Homo sapiens: one gene and its partners. The protein of the gene in region 3 purifies or fractionates together with the protein of the main gene of each other region. This does not show direct contact. Each region holds a gene or a part of one and is shown on either strand. Other genes may lie near its edges.

Region 1 (2,313 bases), on a different chromosome or scaffold from region 3:
CTGCAGTTTCTGCCGGCAGCGAGATGGACGGTGTGCGACTGGGGTCCTTGTGTATTTAGCCAAATATCATGGCTTTGGGAATGTGCATGCCTACTTGAAAAGGTAGTGGGTGTTTTTTTTTCCCTTCCACATCTGAATTTTATATTCATTTATGTCTTAATGAGAAGATGATAGATGTCAGAAGAGTGGTTATCTCTGGCGGGGTGGAGACTGACTGGAACGGGGCACACTGGAAGGGATGGGAACATTTTCTGTCTTCACTTAGGTGGTGGTAACCCGGGTGGGTGGGTGTGTATGAAAAAGTCAGGTAATATACTTGAAGATGCGCACACTTGACCATAGTGATGTTATAACTCAATAAAAATGGTTTTAAAAATGAATTAGGCTTTCAAAAGAGAATTCTTTGGTTGAAAACTATGTCCTGACACATTTCCTTTTGTTTTTCACAGCCTGAAACAGGAATTTGAAATGCAAGCATAATATCTGGAAAATTTGCTGCCTGCCTTCTACTTCTCAAATCTTTCTTGTAAAAGTTTCCAATTTTTTCACTGAAACCTGAGTTAAAAATCTTGATGATCAGCCTGTTTCATAAGAAACTCCAATCAAGTTAATCTTAGCAGACATGTGTTTCTGGAGCATCACAGAAGGTATATTGCTAGTTACACTTTGCCCTCCTGCAGTTTCTTCTCTGCTCCCAACCCCCATCTCACAGCATCCCCCTCTATTTCCAATGCTCCTCTCCAACCGCTTAGTTTCTGAATTTCTTTTAAATTACAGTTTTATGAAAGCATATTTTATTTACTTGGTGTTGAAATAGCCCTCATAAAACCTAAGCACTTGGAAACACAATAATAGTATTAACTAACTAGATCTATTGAATTTCAGAGAAGAGCCTTCTAACTTGTTTACACAAAAACGAGTATGATTTAGCATTCATACTAGTTGAAATTTTTAATAGAATCAAGGCACAAAAGTCTTAAAACCATGTGGAAAAATTAGGTAATTATTGCAGATTGATGTCTCTCAATCCCATGTATTGCGCTTATGTTACAAGTTGTTGTCACAGTTGAGACTTAATTTCTCCTAATTTCTTCTGCCCGAAGGGTAAGTGGTGCGTCCAGCTTACACAATCATAATTCAAAGGTTGGTGGGCAATGTAATACTTAATTAAAATAATGATGGAAGAGCTATCTGGAGATTATGAGTAAGCTGATTTGAATTTTCAGTATAAAACTTTAGTATAATTGTAGTTTGCAAAGTTTATTTCAGTTCACATGTAAGGTATTGCAAATAAATTCTTGGACAATTTTGTATGGAAACTTGATATTAAAAACTAGTCTGTGGTTCTTTGCAGTTTCTTGTAAATTTATAAACCAGGCACAAGGTTCAAGTTTAGATTTTAAGCACTTTTATAACAATGATAAGTGCCTTTTTGGAGATGTAACTTTTAGCAGTTTGTTAACCTGACATCTCTGCCAGTCTAGTTTCTGGGCAGGTTTCCTGTGTCAGTATTCCCCCTCCTCTTTGCATTAATCAAGGTATTTGGTAGAGGTGGAATCTAAGTGTTTGTATGTCCAATTTACTTGCATATGTAAACCATTGCTGTGCCATTCAATGTTTGATGCATAATTGGACCTTGAATCGATAAGTGTAAATACAGCTTTTGATCTGTAATGCTTTTATACAAAAGTTTATTTTAATAATAAAATGTTTGTTCTAACTTGTCTGCTTTTTTAAAAATAATCTTACTGTACTTAATTCTAATTTTTTCCTCATATTTAAATAAAAGGCCATTTCCACCTTTTCTAAAAAAGTCTCCCTTTTGACTGAAGTTTCTGAAGTTCTAAGGTCAGCTTGTTTGAAAGGACCTCACTAGGTGACAGGACTAATACCTGTGATCAGAAAACGGGCGGAGACAACCACAGTGCCTGATAGAAAACAATATGTGCCCATGAAGTTTTGTAGTGTTTTCTTTTCCTTTATGATGTGCTTTGCAATACCTGGCTTACTTTTATCAACCATTCAAACATATATTAAATGCATGCTGTGCCTTGAGGCTTGTTCCAGGACTGTGAGAATCAACAAAAAAGGCATGGTCTAAAAGCTCTCATAGCCCAATTCTTTTTTTATTTTTTGTAGAGACAGGTCTTGCTATGTTGCTCAGGCTGGTTTCAAACTCCTGGGCTCAAGGGATCCTCCTGCCTTGGCCTCCCAAAGTCACAGGCAAGAGCCACCACCACACCGGCTGTCCAATTCTTTAGACCAGGGATTGGCAAACTACAGCCTGTGGGCTACATGCTGCTGCAGAGTTTA
Region 2 (3,500 bases), on a different chromosome or scaffold from region 3:
TGGTCTCTCTTAGTGGTCAGATCCTTCTTTCTGTTATATAATAGTATATCCTTTTATTTTGAAAGAAGATAAACAGTGAATCAAAATCTGTTTTTCTTGATTAAGGGAATTTTGTAATTATTACTAATAATGTGATACTGGAGGACATAGTTTAGATGCTGCTTTTACAAAGGCCCTGATGCTATTGTAATAAATAATATTCTAAAAATTTTAAAGGCTTTCTTTGTGATAGGTTTTGTTTTCTTTGAACAATGATGGTATTGACAAGGACTTGAAACTAATTTTGTAGCAGACAGCTAAGGATTAAGATGACTCTATTTGGATCTCACCGTGCTTCTCACATTTGTCTTTCCTCTGGTTTCGTTTTGGATTTTCATAATAAAGGCAGAACAGTTCATAAACACTTAATGAGGATCCATTTCCAAGTACTTCACCTTTAGACAAACTCAGCATCACTTTCATAATAGATTAACTTAATAGAAAACAAGATGCAAGCAGAAAACATTAGATGGTTGTAATAAAATGCAGCTTCAATGTCTTTAACCCAGGAGTTAATGGAAAATTTTTGAGTTGTCCTGAATCTGCCAGAACTTGTATATGTTCTTGTTAATGGCCTTTATTTACATTTATGCCCATTTAGAAAAGCAATAATCTCGATTAAGAAAACATTCACAACAATGACATCCCATTTCTGGTTAGTATAGAAACCTGCTATAGAAATGCATTTTAGTATTAGTGTCAAGCAGTTACATTTGAGGTTTTCTTATGTTTAATAGATTTTTAAAAAGTACACTCTATGGACATATGTATTCTAATTGTAAGTGTACATGTTTAAAGGTGAGCTGTAGAGTGAGTGGCATTAATTAAAGAAGTATGGCAAAACTTACAGATTTACGAACTAGTGATTCAGAAGACCAAAAATGTAGTCTGTCAATGCTGTTGTTGCTCATAGCATTTTTGGAGGTCACTTAGAGTGCTTTGAGCATCTAGAGCACATTTTTCTTTGCTTCCATTTCTTCCATTGTGGCAAATATTTGTCCTTTGAGGATGGATTTAATTTTAAAAAGCTTTTTATTTTGAAGTAATCTTAAACTTACATAAATGGTTCAGGAAGTTCTTTGTACCCTCAACTATCAGAATTAGCAGATTGATAGTGGTATTTGAGTATGATTTAGATCCCAAGTTTTGATAGTTGTCCCAATAATGTTTGATTTGTCTTGTCTTGTCTTGTCTTGTCTTGTCTTGTCTTGTCTTGTCTTGTCTTGTCTTGTCTTCTCTTCTTAATTCATTTCTTTTCTTTTCTTTGAGACAGGGTCTTGCTCTGTCACTCAGGCTGGAGTATAGTGGTATGATCACGGCTCACTGCAGCCTTGACCTCCTAGGCTCAAGTGATTCTCCCGCCTCAGCCTCCTGAACAGCTGGGACTACAGGTGTGTGCCACCATGCCTGGCTAATTTTTAAAAATTATTTGTAGAGATGAGGTCTTGCTATGTTGCCCAGGCTGGTCTCAAACTCCTGGGCTCAAGTGATCCCCCCGCCTCAGCCCCACAAAGTGGTGTGATAACAGGCATGAGCCGCTGCTCCTAGCCCCCAATAATATTTCTTTTGTTACTTACCTTTTTTTTTTTTTTTTCGTTTTTGAGACAGAGTCTCTTTCTGTCACCCAGGCTGGAGAGCAGTGGCGCGATCTCAGCTCACTGCAACCTCTGCCTCCTAGGTTCAAACAGTTCTCTGCCTCAGCCTCCCGAGTAGCTGGGATTACAGGTGCTTGCCACCATGCCCGGCTAATTTTTGTATTTTTAGTAGAGACAGGGTTTCACCATGTTGGCCAGGCTGGTCTTGAACTCCTGACCTTGTGATCCACCCGTCTCGGCATCCCAAAGTGCTGGGATTACAGGCGTGAGGCACTGTGCCCAGCCAGTAATATTTCTTATAGCAGAAAGATCCAGTTCATAATCACTCCTTGCATTTAGTTGTCATGCCTCTTTGTTCTCCTTCAATATGGAAGTTTTTGTTTTCATAACCTTGGCACTTTTAAAGATTATGAAGCAGTAGTAACATTGTAGAATATCCCTTAATTTGGGATTGTCTGTTTTCCCTTTATGTTTTGACTCAGTTTATACAACTTTGGCAGGAATGTAAATGAAGTGTTGCTGTTTTCTTTTCATTGTATCCCACAAGCTGTTATATGATTTCAATTTGTTTCATCACTGGTGATTAACTTTGATCATGTCTGCCAGACTTCTTCACAGTCAAATTACCTTTCCCACCCCACTTTACAATTAATACGTAATTTGTGGAGAGATACTATGAGATATTGTAATATCCCAATTCATATCAACTTTATATTCATTTATTTTTATCAGTGTGGACTCATGGGTTCCTATTTTATTTTATGGGTTATAATCTCATATGCTTGTTATTAATTTTGGTGCTCAAATTATTACAGATTTGGCCACTAGGAGTCATGTCAAGCTGGTTTCCGGGTCCTTTTGATCTATTCCCATCATTCTTTGAGCATATTCCTATTTTCTGGGGCAATAAGATGTTCCAGGCTTGGCCAGGTGTCGTGACTCACACCTGTAATCCCAGCACTTTGGGAGGCTGAGGCGGGCAGATCACCTGAGGTCAGGAGTTCGAGATCAGCCTGGCCAATGTGGAGAAACCCTGTCTCTACTAAAAATACAAAAATTAGTTGGGCATGGTGGTGCGTGCCTGTAATCCCGGCTACTCAAGAGGCTGAAGCATGAGAATTGCTTGAACCTGGGAGGCAGAGGTTGCAGTGACCTTAGATCGTGCCACTGCACTCCAGCTTGGGCCATAGAGTGAGACTCCATCTCAAAAAAAAAAAAAAAAAAGATGTTGCAGGCTTATCCTGTACTTGGAGTCAGCCATTTCTCCAAGGAGTCCTGGTTGCTTTTAGGAGAGAATGGTATTTAGAAACCCCAGTCCATGTGTTTATTCTAATGAAGTATAGCTGTCTCAGGCCCTCTTAGGACAGAGCTGGGGAAAATTGTGTGTGTGTTTCTTTGTTTGTCTGTGTTTGTGTTGGAAGGTAGTGTGAGAGAGGAAGGGAGAAATTTATATTTAGTTTTATGTCTGACTTTATGTACTGAAAACTGTGAGTTCACTCTGATACTTTCAATTCCAATCCATCCCTCTAGGAGTCATTCTTGTTTTCTCTCTTTCTCAGTTTCCAGAGTAACTCTGTAACTCTCTACTTCTGCAGTGAGATACCTGACACCTATAACTCTCTCTCTCTCTCTCTCTCTATCTGTGTATCTATCTATCTGGATAGATATATTTAACTTTTTTAGTTAAAAATTACATATATTTAACTAAAATGTTATATATATATATATAACTTTTTTAAAAATCAACTCCCTTATATATAACCACTTTCTTCTAATCTTTTACCATACAAATGCCCTCCCGTGCCAGGTTGTCGAGTCCTGACACTCTGTGCTAGGACATGTTCAGAAAGGGAAGAGAGGGGATGG
Region 3 (3,500 bases):
TGCTTTTATGCCAATATCATGCTGTTTTGGTTACTACAGCTTTGTAGTTTTGAAATCTTTAAATTTTTGAAATTTTGAAATTTTCTAGTTTTGAAATTTTGAAATCTTGTAGTGTGATACCTCCAGCTTTGTTCTTTTTTGCTTGGGATTGCTTTGACCATTCAGGCTATTTTTAGTTCCATATGAATTTTAAGATTGTTTCCTCTAATTCTGTGAAGAATTACATTGATATTTTGATAGAGCCAGGTTTGAATCTGTAGATTTCTTTGGGTAGTATAATCATTTTAGCAATATTAATTCATCTGATGAGTAAGGAATGTCTTTCCATTTGTTTGTATCCTCTTCAGTTTATTTCCTCAGTGTTTTGTAGTTTTTCTTATTAAGGCTTGTCACCTCCTTGGTTAAATTTATTCCTAGGTATACTTCATTCTCTTATAGCTATTGTAAATGTGATTGCCTTCCTGATTTATTTTCAGCTAATTCATTGTGTGTAGAAATGCTACTGATTTTTGTATATTGATTTTGCATCCTGCAAATTTACTAAATTCATTTATCAGTTCTGAGAGTTTTATTGTTAGAGTCTTTAGGTTTTTGTTTTGTTTTGTTTTGTTTTGTTTTGTTTTTGAGATGGAATTTCACCATGTTGGCCAAGCTGGTCTTGATCTCCTGGCCTCAAGCAATCTGCCCACTTTGGCCTCCTAAAGTGCTGGAATTACAGGCATGAGCCACCACGCCTGGCCAAGTCTTTAGGTTTTTGTATGTTATTTGCAGAGACAATTTGACTTCCGCCTTTCCAGTTTGGATGGTTTTTATTTCTTTCTCTTGCCTAATTGCTCTGGCTAGGACTTTCAGTACTATGTAAAATAAGAGTCATAACAGTGGACATCCAGTTCCTAGAGGAAAAGATTTCAGCTTTTCTCCATTCAGTATGATGTTAGCCATGGGTTTGTCATATATGGCCTTTTTTGTGTTGAGGTACTTTCCTTCTATACCTAATTTATTGAGAGTTTCTATCATGAAACAATATTGAATTTTAACACATGCTTTTTATTCTGCAACTATTTAGGTGATCATACGGTTTATGTCCTTCATTCTGTTGACATATGTATAACATTTATTGATTTGCATATGTTGAATCATTCTTGCCTTTCTGGGATTAATCCCACTTTATCATGGTATGTTATCTTTTTGATGTATTGTTGGATTTGATTTGCTACTATTTTGTTGAATATTTTTGCATCTATGTTCATCAGGGATATTGGCCTCTAGTTTTCTTTTTTTATTGTCTCCTTTCTGATTTTGGTGTCATGGTTATGCTGGCCTTGTAGAATGAGTTAGGAAGAGTTGCCTCCACTTCAATTTTTTGGAATAGTTTGAGAAGAGTTGGCATAATTTTTTTTTCTTTAAAGGTTCAGTAAAGTTCAGCACTGAAGCCATCCAGCCCTGGAATTTTCTTTGTTGGGGGGCCTTTTATTATTCATTCAATCTCATTACTTGTTGTTTGTCTGCTGAAGTTTTCTATACCTTCTTGATTCAATCTCGGTAGATTATATGTGTCCAGGAACTTATCCATTTCTTCTAGACTTTCAAATTTGTTGGCATATTGTTCATAGTAGTGTCTAAGATCCTGTGTATTTCTGTGGTAACCATTGTGACATCTTCTTTTTTATTTATGATTTTATTAATTTTTATGTCTTCTGTCTCTTTCTTAGTTTAGCTAATGATTGTCAATTTTATTTATTTTTCCAAAAAGCGAACTTGTTCATTGATTTTTTTTTAATTTCATTTATTTCTGCTCTGATCTTTATGATTTCTTTCATTGTGCTGATTTTGGATTTGGTTTGTTCTTGCTTTCTAGTTTCTTGAAATGCACAGTTAAATGGTTTACTTGAAATTTGTCTAATTGTTTGATGTAGGCATTTATTTCTCTCAAGTTGTCTCTTAAAACTGTTTTTGCTGTGTCCCATAGGTTTTGGTATATTTTATTTCTATTTTTATTTATTTTGAGAAATTTTTAAATATCATTCTTAATTTCTTCCTTCACTATTGGTCATTTAGAATCATTTTGTTTCATTTCTGTGTATTTGTATAGTTTGCATGTTTCCCTTGGTATTGATTTTTAGTTTTATTCAATTGTAGTCAAATAAGATACTTGATACATTTTGGTTTTTAAAAATTTTTGGCACTTGTTTTGTGTTCTAACATATGGTCGATCCTTGGGAATGTTGCACATGCTGATGAAACCATGTGTATTCTGCAGCTGTCGGTTGAAATGTTCTGTAAATATCTTAGGTTCATTTGGTATATGGTGCAGTTTAAATCCAACGTTTATTTGTTAATCTTGTCTAGATGATTTGTTCAATGCTGAGAGTGGGGCGTTGAAGTCCTCAACTATTATTGTATTGGAGTCTATCTCTCCCTTTATATCTAATAATATTTGCTTTACATATCTGGGTGCTCTGGTGTTGTGTGCATATGTATTTACAGTTGTTATATTATAGTGCTGAACTGACCCCTTTATAATAATATAATGTCCTTCTTTGTCTCTTTACAGCTTTTGACTTGTAGTCCGTTTTGTCTGAGATAAGTATAGCTATTCCTGCTTCCTTTCATTTCCACTTGGGTAGAATATCTTTTTCCATCTCTTCCTTTTCAGTCTATGTGTGTCTTCTAGGTGAGATAAGTTTCTTGTAAGCAGTATATAGCTGTGTTGGTAGAAGGGCTGAGGCAGGGCTTGCTTGTCTGACATAATGTAAAAGAGTCTTGGAACATGTCCTGGGTCCAGGGTCTCAAACCCCTCGTGGCCTATGGAACACCAAGCTCTGTGCCTAAGGGTGGAAGGCTGCCCTGCCACACTGCAATCTAAGCCCAGGGCATAAAACCCCTCGTGGCTTGGAAAGAATCCAGGGCTCTGGGCATAAAACCCCTCATAGCCTCTGGAATGTGTCCAGACTTGCTGGCCCCTTGCTCCTTGCTCTCCCAGGATCATAAATTGATTGTATCTTGAGTGAAAAGAACTTGTTCTCCATTATTTCAAGTAGCAGAGCATATGCTAAACCGTCACAGCTATGCTTGATGCACCGCTACCTTTCTACCCCAAAGTCCTCACGTTCTCACTTGTCTATCCCCACTTCTGCACGTCCTCACCACCTGCTTCTTTGTTTGATTACCAATAAATAGTGTGGGCTCCCAGAGCTCGGGGCCTTCACAGCCTCCATACTAGCGTCGGCCCCCTGGACTCACTTTATGTACTATTAACTTGTCTTGTCTCATTCCTTTGACTCCGCTGGACTTCGTGGCCCCCACGGCCTAGTGTTGGATCTGATCACCCCAACAAGCTGAGTCTAGATTTTCTTTTCATTCATTCAGGCAGTCCATATATTTTAAATGGGACAATTTAATCCATTTACATACACATTATTATTAATAGGTTATTTTCATTTCATTGATTGTTTTCTGATTGTTTTATATATTCCTGGTTCCTTACTTCCCCTCTTATT
Region 4 (3,500 bases), on a different chromosome or scaffold from region 3:
TCCCGCTAATTGCAATAAATAGAATCAAAGCACTCGTGAGATTCTTCTCAAATATACACTCTCCATAAGAAAAAGTACCACTGTTTTATATGAGGTCAAACCTGAGACTATTTATTGGATTAAAGGGCTTGTATATGAAACTTTGCAGTTAAATACTAAAGATTTTTTTTGTTGTTGTTAAAAAAAAAAAAAGCCCTGCTTCTGCAGGAATGGTCACTTTTAAAATTCTGTCTTTGGAAGTCCATGGATCGTGTCACTCCTTTGGTGAGGATGACCCTTGCTTGGGAGGTACTCTTGCCCTGGTAAGAGGCCGTGTAACTGGCTTTTAGTGTCATTTCATCTTAGCCAAAGACATAAGAATTTCTCCGATGTCCTATACCATCCAGCTCTGTGCACCTGTGCTTTGAATTGTACATCCTTATCTATAGAAACTGGAGGTGAAAACTTTAACATAATAAAAACATTACTTTGCCTAAGCCATCAGTTAGGCATTTATCTCTGTAGGGAATCTGCTGTGCTTGGATGTACAGGGCAGATAGCTGGTAAAAAATTCAGAATCCTGAGTCTTTCATATTACAGATCTCAAGCTTTTTATCACCTTGGGACATGATTAACAACCATTATTGCTATTATTATTATTGGTGGCTCTAATTCCATGTTATTTACAGAAAAATCTTACAAAACTATGCCTATTTTTTAAATGATGATTTAAATAAATAGCAAAAAAACCTTGCAAGAATATTATTTTGGTACTTTGTACTTTTAAACCATAAACTGAACAAAAGATACTTTTTTGTAGAAGCACAAATGTGAAGTGTCACTCGTTCTGAGACTTCCTCCTCTGTGAAATTCCACAATCTCTTTCTATTTATAGACTTTTCCACAGCAAACATTAGCTGAAAGAGAGAAAAATACACACTAATTGAATGTAAAATGAAAAAAAAAGATGAGTGTTGAAATAGGCAATTATAATGTCCCCAACTCTCATTTAGCTTTAAAATTCCATGATTCTTTATTTATTGGAGAAGGGGTCTCACTATGTTGCTCAAGCTGGCCTTGAACACCTGGGCTCAAGTGATTCTCTCACCTCAGCTTCCCAAGTAACTGGGACTACAGGTGTGTGCCACCATTAATTTTTCTTTTCTTCAAATTAAAGACTGGAGCTAATTACTAACATTTTTGAATTCCTTTTAGGAAATTACAGAAAAATTGGGTTTAAATAAAAAAATTTAATTCACTATCATTAGAGATTAACTGGACACAAAAAATTAATTTGGGGCAACTAGAATTTATATAAACTATAGAACAGAGACTTTAATTAGAATGAGAAATGATAAGTGATTTTAACTAAAGAAATCAAGCATGTCACCCATTTAGCATTTCTTATTTAAACGTCACACAAGACTTAAGGCAATATATAACAACATATAAAATATAGTAATAACAAATTGAAAGTTAAAGTAGAATAGTGAGATAAATTTGTGTCAGAAATAAGAATTATAAAAATGCATACTTGATGTAAGGGGTGGTAATACATTTCGGTCTAAGCTTTCTAACAATAATGTGCAGAGAGAAATCTAATCTGTAACCTAATTCACATGGTCTGTAAGCTAAAAACAATCATCAGAGGAGGCACAACCTTCTTCATAATATAAAAAGAAATTCTTCCGGAAACACAATATTAATGTAATATGATGAATAAAGTCCTTAACAATAATGGGTGACACTGACAAGTTTTATAAGGCTGTTTCTTGTAGTGTTTGTCAGTGTAGCCAGTGGAAACAATTAGATAATTGAAACTCAGTAATGTCAGAGATAAAGCATTTCTAAAGTTTTATATACTTTTTAGGAACAAAAGATACAAAAGCAAGGAAAGTGGGCCTGGCTGTATCTCTCTAGCACTGGGCCCACATTCAACCCCCTCAATTCAGCACCAGCCAAAAAAGGTTGCACAATGAATGCTATTAATATTAAATACGCATAGATTTCGGTTAAATTTCAAAATGCCAAAGAGAATGAACAATTGTAAACAAGGTAAATTTATTTAAGATGGAAAAGTTGGCAGAGGGTTAAACAATTTAGCAGGGAGGAGAATATCTCCATTTTCTTCCCTTACTCCCTTAGGTGCAAATATCAAAGGCTTGAGGCTGGGACATCTGACAGGACAGGTTACAAGACTGAAAAAATCTGTAACATCTGAAGTTCTCAGCTGTATATTTTTTACCTAAAAAATGTTTTTCTGGGATACTGTTGGGGTTGGGTTTTATATGTCTCAAGATTTTAAGGTTCCCCCTCTTTTGGGGTATGAAATACCCTTCAAAAAGTTCATGTGGATCCTGAATGCTAAAAGAGCTGGCTACACAGAATCTACCTTAGGTTTGGGTTTAAGGGAAAACAGCATGTGGACCTTCATATTTACTTTTACACTATGTTACCCAATTCTCTGGTGCAGCAATTAAGCAAAAAACACAGGAGATTTCTGATAGATACTGTGTCCAGGAATAATCTGATTGTTTATGTTTTACTCTCAGGATCTCCGGAGAATTGAGAAGAAGGTAAAGAATTTCAGCACCTATTAATTTCATGTTACAGTAATCACTAGGTACTAAATGGAAGGTGTGACAGAATACTGCTATTGCATAAGAAAAACTGTTTAAAGCATTATAATTTGTTTCCTAATAGTCAGAAATTACCTCTAAAATAAAGATTATTTTAAAATATGTAGTTTTTCTGTCAAAAAGAATTACTTCCACAAAGATGCCTTTTTTACAACAAATTATTAGATCCAAGTGACTTTGAGTTCTTAATATTATAATTAATCATTTGAATTTTTCAATATTTTACAATGAATTATTTGTTTGCATAATTTACATGGAATTACTGTCATTAGTCATGGTTATTATTGAGAAGTAAATAATTTAACTTTTTAACTTGAGGAAAGAATAGCTTTTTCAAATTTGTATGAAATGCCATATGGGCTGATGATAGCCCTGTTTTGGGTAGTGTACTAAATAAAGAATAAAATTACCCATGGAAAAAATAATAAATAAAATGTGTAGTTTTTAAAAATATAAACATTTTTTACACTCAAGATATCCAAGCAATTGAGTGACAAAAGCTTTTTCAATGTAACCCCAACAAAAAGAATTATGGAAAACAAATGTAAATATGCCTAGAATCATTACACATACTCATAATCAGTAAAAATAACATATAACTGATTTCATTAAGAATTTTCGATATATCAAACTTACTCTACGCAGGGCATTTTGAAAATCATTTGCCAGTTCTAAAGTAGTAATAATAAATACTCCAAGAACTAAAAGTCCCCCTGGTAGCATTCTGGATACCTAAAAATAGAAATATATTATTAGCTAACAAATTGGCATTATATGCAATCCTTTCTGTTTGAGAAACTGTCTGCTTAGCATGTCCTTAGCTTTTCACCTTAAAACTACTTTATAAATAAAACTATCTGATAACAACATCCTTTAGCTACA
Region 5 (3,500 bases), on a different chromosome or scaffold from region 3:
GAGCATGGCAAGGATGTGAGTGCTGGGATAAAGCTGGAGCACAAGAGGGTTCTTAGTGATGTGGCTCTGACAGCCTTCAGCTTACATTGCCAGAGCCACGAGATGTCTGTGAGCAAATCAGACGGTCGGCTGAATAGGCCACAGTCCGTCCTCAGCCGAAGGAGAGGCACTGTTGGGGATAATGAATTCATTTGGAAAACGTTTACGAGCTCCTCTCCTGTGCCAGGTGCTGTGGTGCGTGCTGAGCAAGCCATGTGGCTCTTCACGGCTGGACGCCTGCCCTGTGAACACATGCGCACAGACTGCAGTGCTGGGCAGGTGGCAGTCCCGGGACCCTGGCAGAGTAGCAAGGCCCTCACTGGGTGGAATGCTCATGTCCTCCTTACACAGGTCCCGCTTCCGCCGAGACCTGGCTGTACAGCAGGAACCGATCTGGCTGCTGAGGTCAGGGGAGGGTGTATAGGAGTGGGGAGCGCTTGACTGGGGAGGAGGGGCATGGAGGGTGGTGAGCAGGCACTGGAGCTGCTTCCAAGGCCATGGTGAAGATCTGAGCTGTGGTCCTAAGAGCCATGAGAGAGTGTTGAAGGGTTTTAAACAGGGAGGGGTGTGATACTGTGACACTGTTTGTCATCCTTGAAGAGAGGGCGAGAGAGGAAACTGGTGGGCTTCTGAGGAGGCCGAGGCCAGATGCTGTGGGGTTGGAGAGGATCGGGCATGTTCAGGGTACACATGGCACACTCAGGATTCACTGATGGGCGGGGTGCTGGGGGTCGAGGTGATCTCCAGGGTGCTGGCCTGAGGGGATGGGAGTGTGGTAGGCAGAATACTGGCCCCCTAAAGGTGTCCTCATCCTCATCCCTGACCCCTGTGAATATGTTCTGTTACATGGCAGAGGGGAATTAAGGTCGCTAATCAGCTGACCTGAAATGGGGGAATTGTCCTGTTACCTGGTGGGCCCAGTGTAACCTCACGAGCTTTTGGACGTGGTCAGAGACATGGTGTGGGATGGACTCCACCCACAGCGGCTGGCTTTGCAGATGGAGGAGGCAGCCACCAGGAATGTGGCGCGGCTTCTAGAAGCTGCGAAAGGCCTTCTGCAGATGGCTAACAGGAGAGCAAGGCCTTGCTCCTGCATCCGCCAGGAGCTGAATTCTGCCGCCAACCGGAGTGAGCAGGAAAGGGGTTCTCCCTTCGAGCCTCCCGGAAGGGGCACAGCTGGCTGACGCCTGGACTTCAGTGTGATGAGACCCATGCCGGATTTCTGACCTTCAGAACTTCGAGATAGTGAATGCATGTTTTAAGCTGTGGTAATTTGTTACAGCAGCTGTGAAGAGTTGGGGACTGTGCCGAGGGATGTCTGACAGGGAATGGCAGGTGGCCCAGCACCTCCCTCAGCAGAGTCCTGCACTTGGATGTGGGCAGGAGTACCTTGGTCAGCGGCCTTGGGGGTGGTCACTGGGTAACCTCCACAAAGTGTGTTTAAACCCAGGGGACTGAAGTCAGCTCGGAGGGTTCTTCCTATGTCCTATGTCCTGCTCAGGCCTAGGAACCAAATAGAGCCCTGCCTCTTTCCTCAGAATGTTGGCTGCTGCTTCTGGCCGCCTTGCTTTCTTGTGTTTTTTATAAATCTGTATTGCCTTTTGCTTATGTTTTGAAGAGATTGTTTATTGGGTAAGAACCCTCAGTCCTGTTTTCCATGCAGAGGGAAGCCCCGGAGTCTTGTTCCGGCAGTGATTGTGTGTTCCCCGCCAGTTGGGTTTCTCTTCTTGTTTGTGAGTGGAGATGACCTTCCTGTGACGGGGGCCGCGGAAGAGCTGGTGGGTGAGATTTTGCTGTAGGTGCAGTTCCTTTTCTTGTTCCTTTCAGCGGTTACTTTCCATGTTATTAAATGTCTTACTTTGTCCAGAAACACTTTGAAAAATAAATTGAATGTGAATCATATTTCCTTTCTCTTACATATTCGTCTGATAGAGTAAATCTGGACTCTGGGTTAATTTTAAATGAAGACAAAAATGATTGATCCCTGACAATTTTGGATTATTTATTTATTTGTTTCTTAAGTAACAAGAGCAGGAGGAAGTACCCCATCGCCTCCAAGTGTTTTTGAGGAACCATGGGATTCCTCATGGAATTGAGGAGAACAAGTCTTCGGAGACCACTTGTCTGTTTTTCTTTCTGTTTTTCTTTTTAATTTTTTATTTCTATAGATTACTGGGGAACAGGTGGTGTTTGGTTACATGAGTAAGTTCTTTAGTGGTGATTTGTGAGATTTGGGTGCACCTGAGCAGTATACACTGAACAGTGTATACTGAACAGTGCACCCGAGCAGTATACACTGAACCCAGTCTTTTATCCCTCACCCGCTTCCCATCCTTTTCCTCTGAGTCCCTGAAGTCTATTGTGTCATTCTTATGACTTTGCATCCTCATGGCTTAGGTCCTACTTACTATTTTTTTTTTTTTTGAGATGGAGTCTTGCTCTGTTGCCCAGGCTGGAGTGGAGTGGCGCGATCTCAGCTCATTGCAACCTCTGCCTCCCGGGTTCAGGTGATTCTCCTGTCTCAGCCTCCCGAGTGGCTGGGATTATAGGCACATGCCACCATGCCCGCCTAATTTTTGTATTTTTAGTAGAGATGGGGTTTCACCATGTTGGCCAGGCTGGTCTTGAACTCCTGACCTCAAGTGATCCACCCGCCTCGGCCTCCCAGAGTGCTGAGATTACAGGCGTGAACCACCATGCCTAGCCGTTAGCTCCCACTTATGAGTGAGAACAGGTGATGTTTGGTTTTCCATTCCTGAGTTACTTTACCCAGAATTGTTGTCTCCAATCTCATCGAGGTCTCTGCGAATGCCAGTAATTCATTCCTTTTTATGGCTAAGTAGTATTCCATCGTATATATACATATACATATATATGTATACACACATATACATATATATGTATACACACATATACATATATATGTATACACACATATACATATATATGTATACACACATATACATATATATGTATACACACATATACATATATATGTATACACACATATACATATATATGTATACACACATATACATATATATGTATACACACATATACATATATATGTATACACACATATACATATATATGTATACACACATATACATATATATGTATACACACATATACATATATATGTATACACACATATACATATATATGTATACACACATATACATATATATGTATACACACATATACATATATATGTATACACACATATACATATATATGTATACACACATATACATATATATGTATACACACATATACATATATAGTATACACACATATACATATATATGTATACACACATATACATATATATGTATACACACATATACATATATATGTATACACACATATACATATATATGTATACACACATATACATATATATGTATACACACATATACATATATACATATATACACAAACACACATGCACCGCACTTTTT
Region 6 (3,500 bases), on a different chromosome or scaffold from region 3:
ATTACCTCAGATTTTACTAGTTGTGGACTGAAACAGTTGAATTTATTTTGTACTATTTTAATTTTCTCTATTTTGTTTTCAAGATACAACAGGGTTTTGTTGTGTCACCTGGGCTGGAGTACAGTGTGATCATGGCTCACTGCAGCCTCTACCTCTTGGGCTCAAGTGATCCTCTGCCTCAGTCTTCCTAGTAGCTGAGACTACAGGTCACCATGCCACCACGCCCAGCTAATTTTTTTTTCTTTGTAGAGATGGGAGTCTCATTTTGTTGCCTAGGCTGGTCTCGCACTCCTGGCCTCAAGCGATCCTGTTGCATTTTGGCATTTTTATTTTTGAAATGTTAGCTATTTTAGATTTTCATTGATTTTTGAGATCTTGAAGATGTTGAATCCCGGAAAAAAATTAATAGTTTTCATGAAAAATTTTCTTCATATTTAAAATGTCAAGCTTTTTATCCCTTTTTCTTTGTCCAAAGTGACCAAATTCCTATCAGTAGCTCCCTTATTGTGAACCTTGCAGATGCTTGGCCGTCACTTTTGTGTCCACAGCATGGATTCAGCTGAATAATAGTTCTGTAGGCTGAGCTGAGCCGTAGCATCCAAGGCACAGATGGAGCTGGAGAGTGACATAGCTTGTCCTTGGCTTGATTTTCCTGAGTTCCATCAGCTATTGGATAGGATGTGAATCTTTTTCTTTTCCTGATACAGTGATACAGTCTCCTTCCAGTAGAAGGATAAAACTGGAATCTTGACATTTGATTTGCTTTCTTTTTTTTTTTTTTTTTTTGAGACGGAGTCTCGCTCTGTCCAGGCTGGAATGCAGTGGTGTGATCTCGGCTCACTGCCACCTCCGCCTCCCGGTTTGAAGCAATTCTCCTGCCTCAGTCTCCTGAGTAGCTGGGAATGAAGGCATGTGCCACCACGCCCAGCTAATTTTTGTATTTTTAGTAGAGACAGGGTTTTGCTATGTTGGCCAGCCTGGTCTCGAATTCCTGACCTCGTGATCTGCCTGCCTTGGCCTCCCAAAGTGCTGGGATTATAGGCAAGAGCCACCATGCCCGGCCACAGAAAATTTTTTTAGAGTAGATTCACTTTTGGAGATGATCATAATAGATGTTAAATTTTTTTTTTCTGTTTGGTTTCAGAAAAATCAGAGATGGTGCCAAGTTGCCCCTTTATCTATATCATCCGTAAGGATGTAGATGTTTACTCTCAAATCTTGAGAAAACTCTTCAATGAATCCCATGGAATCTTTCTGGGCCTCCAGAGAATTGACGAAGAGTTGACTGGAAAATCCAGAAAATCTCAGTAAGTTGGTTGCTGTTTGGTGTTGAAGCCCACACTACACTGTGGAAAGCCAAATGAAGTACATTGTTGTCTTTTTGTGTGTTTTATGGGTTGCGTAAAGAAATAAGAGACTCCTGGTTCTAGTTGAGGCATGAGTACTGGACAGTGTACATTAGCAGTGATGGGAAGACTTAGCGGGAATATGCAAATGCTATTGATGGGCTGGCTTGACAAGCTTTATTTATATTCATATTTTACTTAGCCTCTAAAGAAGAAAATTTAGGCCACACAAGCATGTGAGAGTCGTTGAATGAGGTCACATTGTTGGGAGATTTGAAAATTAATATAAACCTAACAGTTTTGTCTCTAAAAAATTATGGTTCAGACGTTATTTGACAACAGACCAGAAAACTCTCGTACTATTTATAGATTAGGATTTTCTTGAATTGTAGTTCATAACTTCATCATTATCAGAGTGGTACTTGTTAATTGTAGACTTTTGGGACCCACCTCAGATCATCAAAATCAAAATCTCCGTGGTTGGATCTTAAAATCTCCAGCACACTGAAGTTTAAGAACTCCTGTGTTAGATTTTTGTCAGCGTCCCTTCACATGGATGGCTAGGGAATGGGCAGTGTTGGTATGTTACTTCTTTGATAAGCTTTTCACAAATGAATCATTCTGGACAAGACTCAGGTCAGCTTCTGTGTGAGTGTGTGCAAGAGTGATTATTGGTTGTTTTTCTGTTTTTTTTCGAGGCAGAGTTTCGCTCTGTCACCCAGGCTGGAGTGCAGTGACGCGTTCTCCGCTCACTGTAAGCTCTGCCTCCTGGATTCACGCCATTCTCCTGCCTCAGCCTCCCGAGTAGCTGGGACTACAGGCGCCTGCCACCACATCCGGCTAATTTTTTGTATTTTTAGTAGAGACGGGGTTTCACCGTGTTAGCCAGGATGGTCTCGATCTCGTGACCTCGTGATCCACCTGCTTCGGCCTCCCAAAGTGCTGGGATTACAGACGTGAGCCACTGTGCCTGGCCCTGTTTTTTTTTTTTTTTTTGAGACAGAGTTTCACTCTGTCACCCAGGCTGGAGTGCAGTGGCGCAATCTTGGCCCACTGCAGCCTCTGCCTCCTGGGTTGAAGCCATTCTCCTGCCTCAGCCTCCTGAGTAGCTGGGATTACAGGTGCGTGCCACCACGCCTGGCTAATTTTTGCATTTTTAGTAGAGATGGGGTTTCATCATTTTGGCTGGGCTGGTCTTGAACTCCTGACCTCAAGTGATCTGCCCACCTCAGCGTCCCAAAGTGCTGGGATTATAGGAGTGAGCCACTGCACCTGGCCTGATTATTGGATTTAAGGGACTCTAGTGGAGAATATTGGTGAGTTTGAGAAATCTATTGTCACTTCTAGGAAAAAAACATGTCAAAAGTCCTGTAATTCCTTGCTGGCAGGGGACCCTGTCTTATTCTTTTTTTTTTTTTTTCAGATGGAGTCTCACTCTGTCGCCCAGGCTGGAGTGCAATGGCATGATCTTGGCTCACTGCAACCTCCGCCTGCCGGGTTCAAGAGATTCTCCTGCCTCAGCCTCCTGAGTAGCTGGGATTTTTGTATTTTTAGTAGAGACAGGGTTTCACCAGGTTGGCCAGGCTGGTCTCAAACACCTGACCTCAGGTGATCTGCCCACTTTCACCTCCCAAAGTGCTGGGATTACACGCCTGAGCCACCGGGCCTGGCCAGTAAATACATTTATGTATCTTTTTTATTTTTTTGAGACAAGGTCTGACCAGTAGATTTCATCTGCAACAATTAATGGCAGTATGGGTTTGTGGATATTAACTTTAGCCCATGGGTTGTTTTGTGGCGTTTTATTTTGTTGTCCAAGTTGTTCCAGCTTCAGAAGGTTAGGAGCTCCTTCACAACGGCTCTCCTCTTTCTTTCAGCAAATTTCTGCATTTATTTGAGTGTTTCCTTCCTTTGTGGCACTACAAGATGTTCCAGGCTCATCTTGTGTGTTATTTCATTTTTTGTAGATTGGTTCGAGTGAGTAAAAACTACCGATCAGTCATCAGAGCATGTATGGAGGAAATGCACCAGGTTGCAAGTAAGGACTGTGTGCGCGTGCGCGCGTGTGTGTGTGTGTGTGTGTGTGGGTATTTTGAGTATTTATCTATGCATAAATACTGTGAGGTAAAGTTTGATTGATATTCCAGTCCAAAA
Region 7 (3,500 bases), on a different chromosome or scaffold from region 3:
CCAAGCAATTCCCAGCCCTGCCCAACCCACTGCCCAGCCTGGGCCCCTCCTCTCCTGCCCGAGCAACTGCCTGGTCCCCTCTCTGGGCTCCTGGCCCCTTCAATCCTTCAAACCCCAGCCCACACAGGAACCGTCACACACACAGGAGCCAGGGGGATCTTTCTAAAATACAAATCGGATCAAGCTGCTTCCCTGCTCCAGACTCTTCCATGGCTCCCTAGTGCCCTTAGGAGACCATCCGAGCTCCTGAGGCTGGCACTCAAGGCCCTTCATGATCCCGCCTCTTCCCTTTCTACCCTCTGCTTCCCCAGGCTGCAGCCCCAAAGAACAGCCTGCAGTTTCTCCAGAGCACTATCATGGCAGCCATCTTTCGACCCATCTTTCTCTGTCCTTTGGCTTGGCTAACACCTTCCCATCCCTCCGTCTCAGCTTACGCATCTCCATCACGAACAGATATTCACTGAGCACGTATAGAGTGCCAGCCCTGCTCTAAGCATCTTATATGCAGAGACGCATTTAATCCTTGCAACAACCCTGCAAGAAAAGAATGAACATTAACCCCATTTTAGAGATGAGGAAATTGAGGTGCTAAGAGGCAGAGTTGCTTGCTCAGGGTCGCATGGGTAGTAAATGCTGGAGGCAACTCCCAGGCTGGGCCTAATCCAGCTTCCACATGACAACGTGATTCCATCTCCCATCTCCCATCATCTCTGCAGACAAACGAGGGCCGGGAGAGGTGGTCTCCGGGCCCTGGTCAGCACTAGCAGGAGGGCTGGGCAGCACGGCCCCTCCTCTGCTGTGTCTGCTGACCGCTCCTCCCGACACTCCCCCACCCTGTCACGTGTCCTGCTCTGTGGGAACTCAGCTCAACAACACTTTGATGGAAAAATTTATGAAGAATCAAATTATTGCTGCTGGGAGGGAATTAAAACCATTTTTCATTCCCGGCGTCCCCGGGCCATGTCTGCGGGCGCCACCTTGGGAGCGCTGTGCACATCCCATCCCTCTTTATGGCCCACCATCACGGGCACAGATTACAGCTGCAATTCTCTACTAATCGGTTCTGGAACAGAAATGGCCATAAATGGGAGGCACTCGCCTGCCTCCCTTCCTGGAGCTGCCGTCAGAACCGCCCACGGCGAGCTGGTGGGGCGAAGTGGGCAGGGCCACTTGGAGCTCTGCATGCTGCCTGGGCACTGGCCAGAGCACTCAGCAGGGGGCACCCCCAGCAACCCCTGCCACCCACCTCTATTCTACCCAGCAGGCTCCTACTCATCCTGCAATGCCCAACTCCAATGCCACCTCCTCTGGGAAGCCTTCTCTGATGCCCCAGTCTGGGGGAGGTAGCCTCCTCTATGCTCCCCTCAGCGTCCCCCACCTCAGTTTACTCCTGTAAAATGGAGATGTCAAGCCCTTCCTGAAGGCTGTTGTCAGGATTCGAGGATGCTGAGCATGTAACTCAGTACACGGGTATCACAGCAGAATGACAATGCATGTCCCTGTTGGTGCCCAACTCTACCACCTCTACCAGGGTTCCATGAGACAGGACCTGGCCCCATCTGATCCTCAAGGGGGCCTCCGTGAGTGTTTACAGAGTAGGTGAGTAAAGGCCTGGGGTGAGCTGAGGCTGAGGCCAGGCTCTGCTCTGGGCATGCTGGACCCCACCAGCCTGCAGGGCATGGCTCTGCAAGGGGAATGTGGGCTGGATTTTGGCTCTAATTTGGCCCTCTGGCTGAATCCCCTTGTTCAGGGCACAACCTACCCAACTGTCAGTGACAGCTTTAGGCAGAGGCCCTAGGAATCTGGCTGGCTGTCCAGCTCTCCCGAGGGGCTGAGGAAGGAGCCTGGGTTTGTAGAACCCGGTGCTCTGACATGGAGGGTGGTCCTCCCCCAACCCCTACTGCCCCTCTGTCCCCTCCCCACACTCCACCTGACCTAGTGGCCACACTAAGGTCTGCAGCCTGACCTCTGCGGCCTCTGAGTGGACAGACACTGGCCGTGTCGCTGCTAGCGTGGGAGCGCCACGGTCCCAGGGTCCCAGGCCAGGGTCAGCACACCTTGGGTGACTCCCGGAGAGGAAACCTTCTTAGGCTGGGGAAGGGGCAGCAGGGCGGGTGACCTGCATTTGCAGTCAAAGCCACAGTGCTGGCTGTGCTCAGAACAGCCGCGCTAATGCCTTGGCAGCAGGGGGTCGATTGCTACTTTCTCCAAACTCATCAACACAATCTATTATTAATACTTCTCCAAAGGCTCAGTGCCGCCATTACAGAGGCAGCGCCAGCCACTCAGGGTATCATCTGTTATCTAGATTGCAAAAACTCAGGAAATAAAACAAACTGCGCGCACTTTATAAACAGAATGCGCCATCCGTTTGGTCTCCAAGCATCTCTCCACCCAATAAAACATCGGGGGGGATGCATGAAATACTCACTCCCAATTATGGGGCTGCCTTTGTCTACTGTGCTGGGGTGAGAGCGACTAATGGCGTGTATGGGAGGGGTTGGGGATACCAGCGGGGTTCCCTCTTCTCTGTGAGCCCCCATTCCCCCTCTCTTCGTGCCTCCCACCACGGAGGACTATGGAGCCAGCCACTGAGAAGAAGGCCCAGCCACAGACAGGTGGCATTGGAATCACATGGACTTGAGTTCCATGCCTTGTCCCACCACTTGCTAGCTGGTGACCGGGCAAGTAATTTTTCTTCTCGAGCCTCAGCTCACTTATCTATACAATGGGCTGGACAACACTGCCTGCATCTCAGCATGAAGATGTAGCGAGTTGTCAGTGTAAAGCAGCAGGTGTGGCGGGCACAACCTCCATAACTTCCTTGCTGTGCAGCTTTAGGCAAGGCATTTGACCTCTCTGAACCTCAAATTCTTCATCTATAAAATGGGAATGATCAGGCCAGCGCGGTGGCTCACGCCTGTGATCCCAGCACTTTGGGAGGCTGAGGCGGGCGGATCACTTAAGGTTAGGAGTTCAAAACCAGCCTGGCCAACATGGTGAAACCCCGTCTCTACTAAAAATACAAAAAATTAGCCGGGTATGGTGGCACACACCTGTAATCCTAGCTACTCCGGAGGTTGAGGCAAGAGAATCACTTGAACCTGGGAGGTGGAGATTGTGGTGAGCCAAGACCGCACCACTGCACTCCAGCCTGGGCGACAGAGAGAGACTCCGTCTCAAAAAATATATAAAAAATAAAAAAAAAAAGGGAATGATCATCCCCGACCATGGGGTTGTTGGCAGGGGCTGGATGCATTTAAAGCCCTCGGCACCATGCTGGCATGAAGAAGGTACTCCAGGTACCCCACATTTCTTTTGTTCGGTGTGTGCCCAAAACGCCTTTGTTGCTCACCCTTGCTAGAGTCTCCATGATTCCTGGGGGCAGCCTCCCTGACGCTGACTGGGTTTACAGGGCCCCACTGTGCCTCCTTCTCACCACCACCCCGGGTTCCGGCCAGCCCTTCTAGCTTGTTTGGCCTGATCTGGACAGAGCACTC

What was found.
Region 1: the proteins of CD33 (region 3) and CDCA7 purify together in Homo sapiens (co-immunoprecipitation; one large-scale study listed by IntAct). This does not show direct contact.
Region 2: the proteins of CD33 (region 3) and UBR3 purify together in Homo sapiens (co-immunoprecipitation; one large-scale study listed by IntAct). This does not show direct contact.
Region 4: the proteins of CD33 (region 3) and ODR4 purify together in Homo sapiens (co-immunoprecipitation; one large-scale study listed by IntAct). This does not show direct contact.
Region 5: the proteins of CD33 (region 3) and TBC1D22A purify together in Homo sapiens (co-immunoprecipitation; one large-scale study listed by IntAct). This does not show direct contact.
Region 6: the proteins of CD33 (region 3) and NUP85 purify together in Homo sapiens (co-immunoprecipitation; one large-scale study listed by IntAct). This does not show direct contact.
Region 7: the proteins of CD33 (region 3) and LMX1B purify together in Homo sapiens (co-immunoprecipitation; one large-scale study listed by IntAct). This does not show direct contact.

The regions. Positions count from the first base shown.
Region 1 is NC_000002.12:173,367,185-173,369,497, forward strand, and holds the end of CDCA7 (cell division cycle-associated protein 7), read left to right. Parts: coding exon 1-102; intron 103-449; coding exon 450-480; 3' UTR 481-1,813; downstream 1,814-2,313. UniProt on the Homo sapiens protein: Participates in MYC-mediated cell transformation and apoptosis; induces anchorage-independent growth and clonogenicity in lymphoblastoid cells. Insufficient to induce tumorigenicity when overexpressed but contributes to MYC-mediated tumorigenesis.
Region 2 is NC_000002.12:169,952,954-169,956,453, forward strand, and holds part of UBR3 (E3 ubiquitin-protein ligase UBR3), read left to right. Parts: intron 1-3,500. UniProt on the Homo sapiens protein: E3 ubiquitin-protein ligase which is a component of the N-end rule pathway. Does not bind to proteins bearing specific N-terminal residues that are destabilizing according to the N-end rule, leading to their ubiquitination and subsequent degradation.
Region 3 is NC_000019.10:51,228,080-51,231,579, forward strand, and holds part of CD33 (myeloid cell surface antigen CD33 isoform 1 precursor), read left to right. Parts: intron 1-3,500. UniProt on the Homo sapiens protein: Sialic-acid-binding immunoglobulin-like lectin (Siglec) that plays a role in mediating cell-cell interactions and in maintaining immune cells in a resting state.
Region 4 is NC_000001.11:186,385,838-186,389,337, reverse strand, and holds part of ODR4 (protein odr-4 homolog), read right to left. Parts: intron 3,351-3,500; coding exon 3,255-3,350; intron 897-3,254; coding exon 790-896; intron 1-789. UniProt on the Homo sapiens protein: May play a role in the trafficking of a subset of G-protein coupled receptors.
Region 5 is NC_000022.11:46,769,150-46,772,649, forward strand, and holds part of TBC1D22A (TBC1 domain family member 22A), read left to right. Parts: intron 1-3,500. UniProt on the Homo sapiens protein: May act as a GTPase-activating protein for Rab family protein(s).
Region 6 is NC_000017.11:75,208,679-75,212,178, forward strand, and holds part of NUP85 (nuclear pore complex protein Nup85), read left to right. Parts: intron 1-1,144; coding exon 1,145-1,307; intron 1,308-3,313; coding exon 3,314-3,384; intron 3,385-3,500. UniProt on the Homo sapiens protein: Essential component of the nuclear pore complex (NPC) that seems to be required for NPC assembly and maintenance. As part of the NPC Nup107-160 subcomplex plays a role in RNA export and in tethering NUP96/Nup98 and NUP153 to the nucleus.
Region 7 is NC_000009.12:126,686,928-126,690,427, reverse strand, and holds part of LMX1B (LIM homeobox transcription factor 1-beta), read right to left. Parts: intron 1-3,500. UniProt on the Homo sapiens protein: Transcription factor involved in the regulation of podocyte-expressed genes. Essential for the specification of dorsal limb fate at both the zeugopodal and autopodal levels.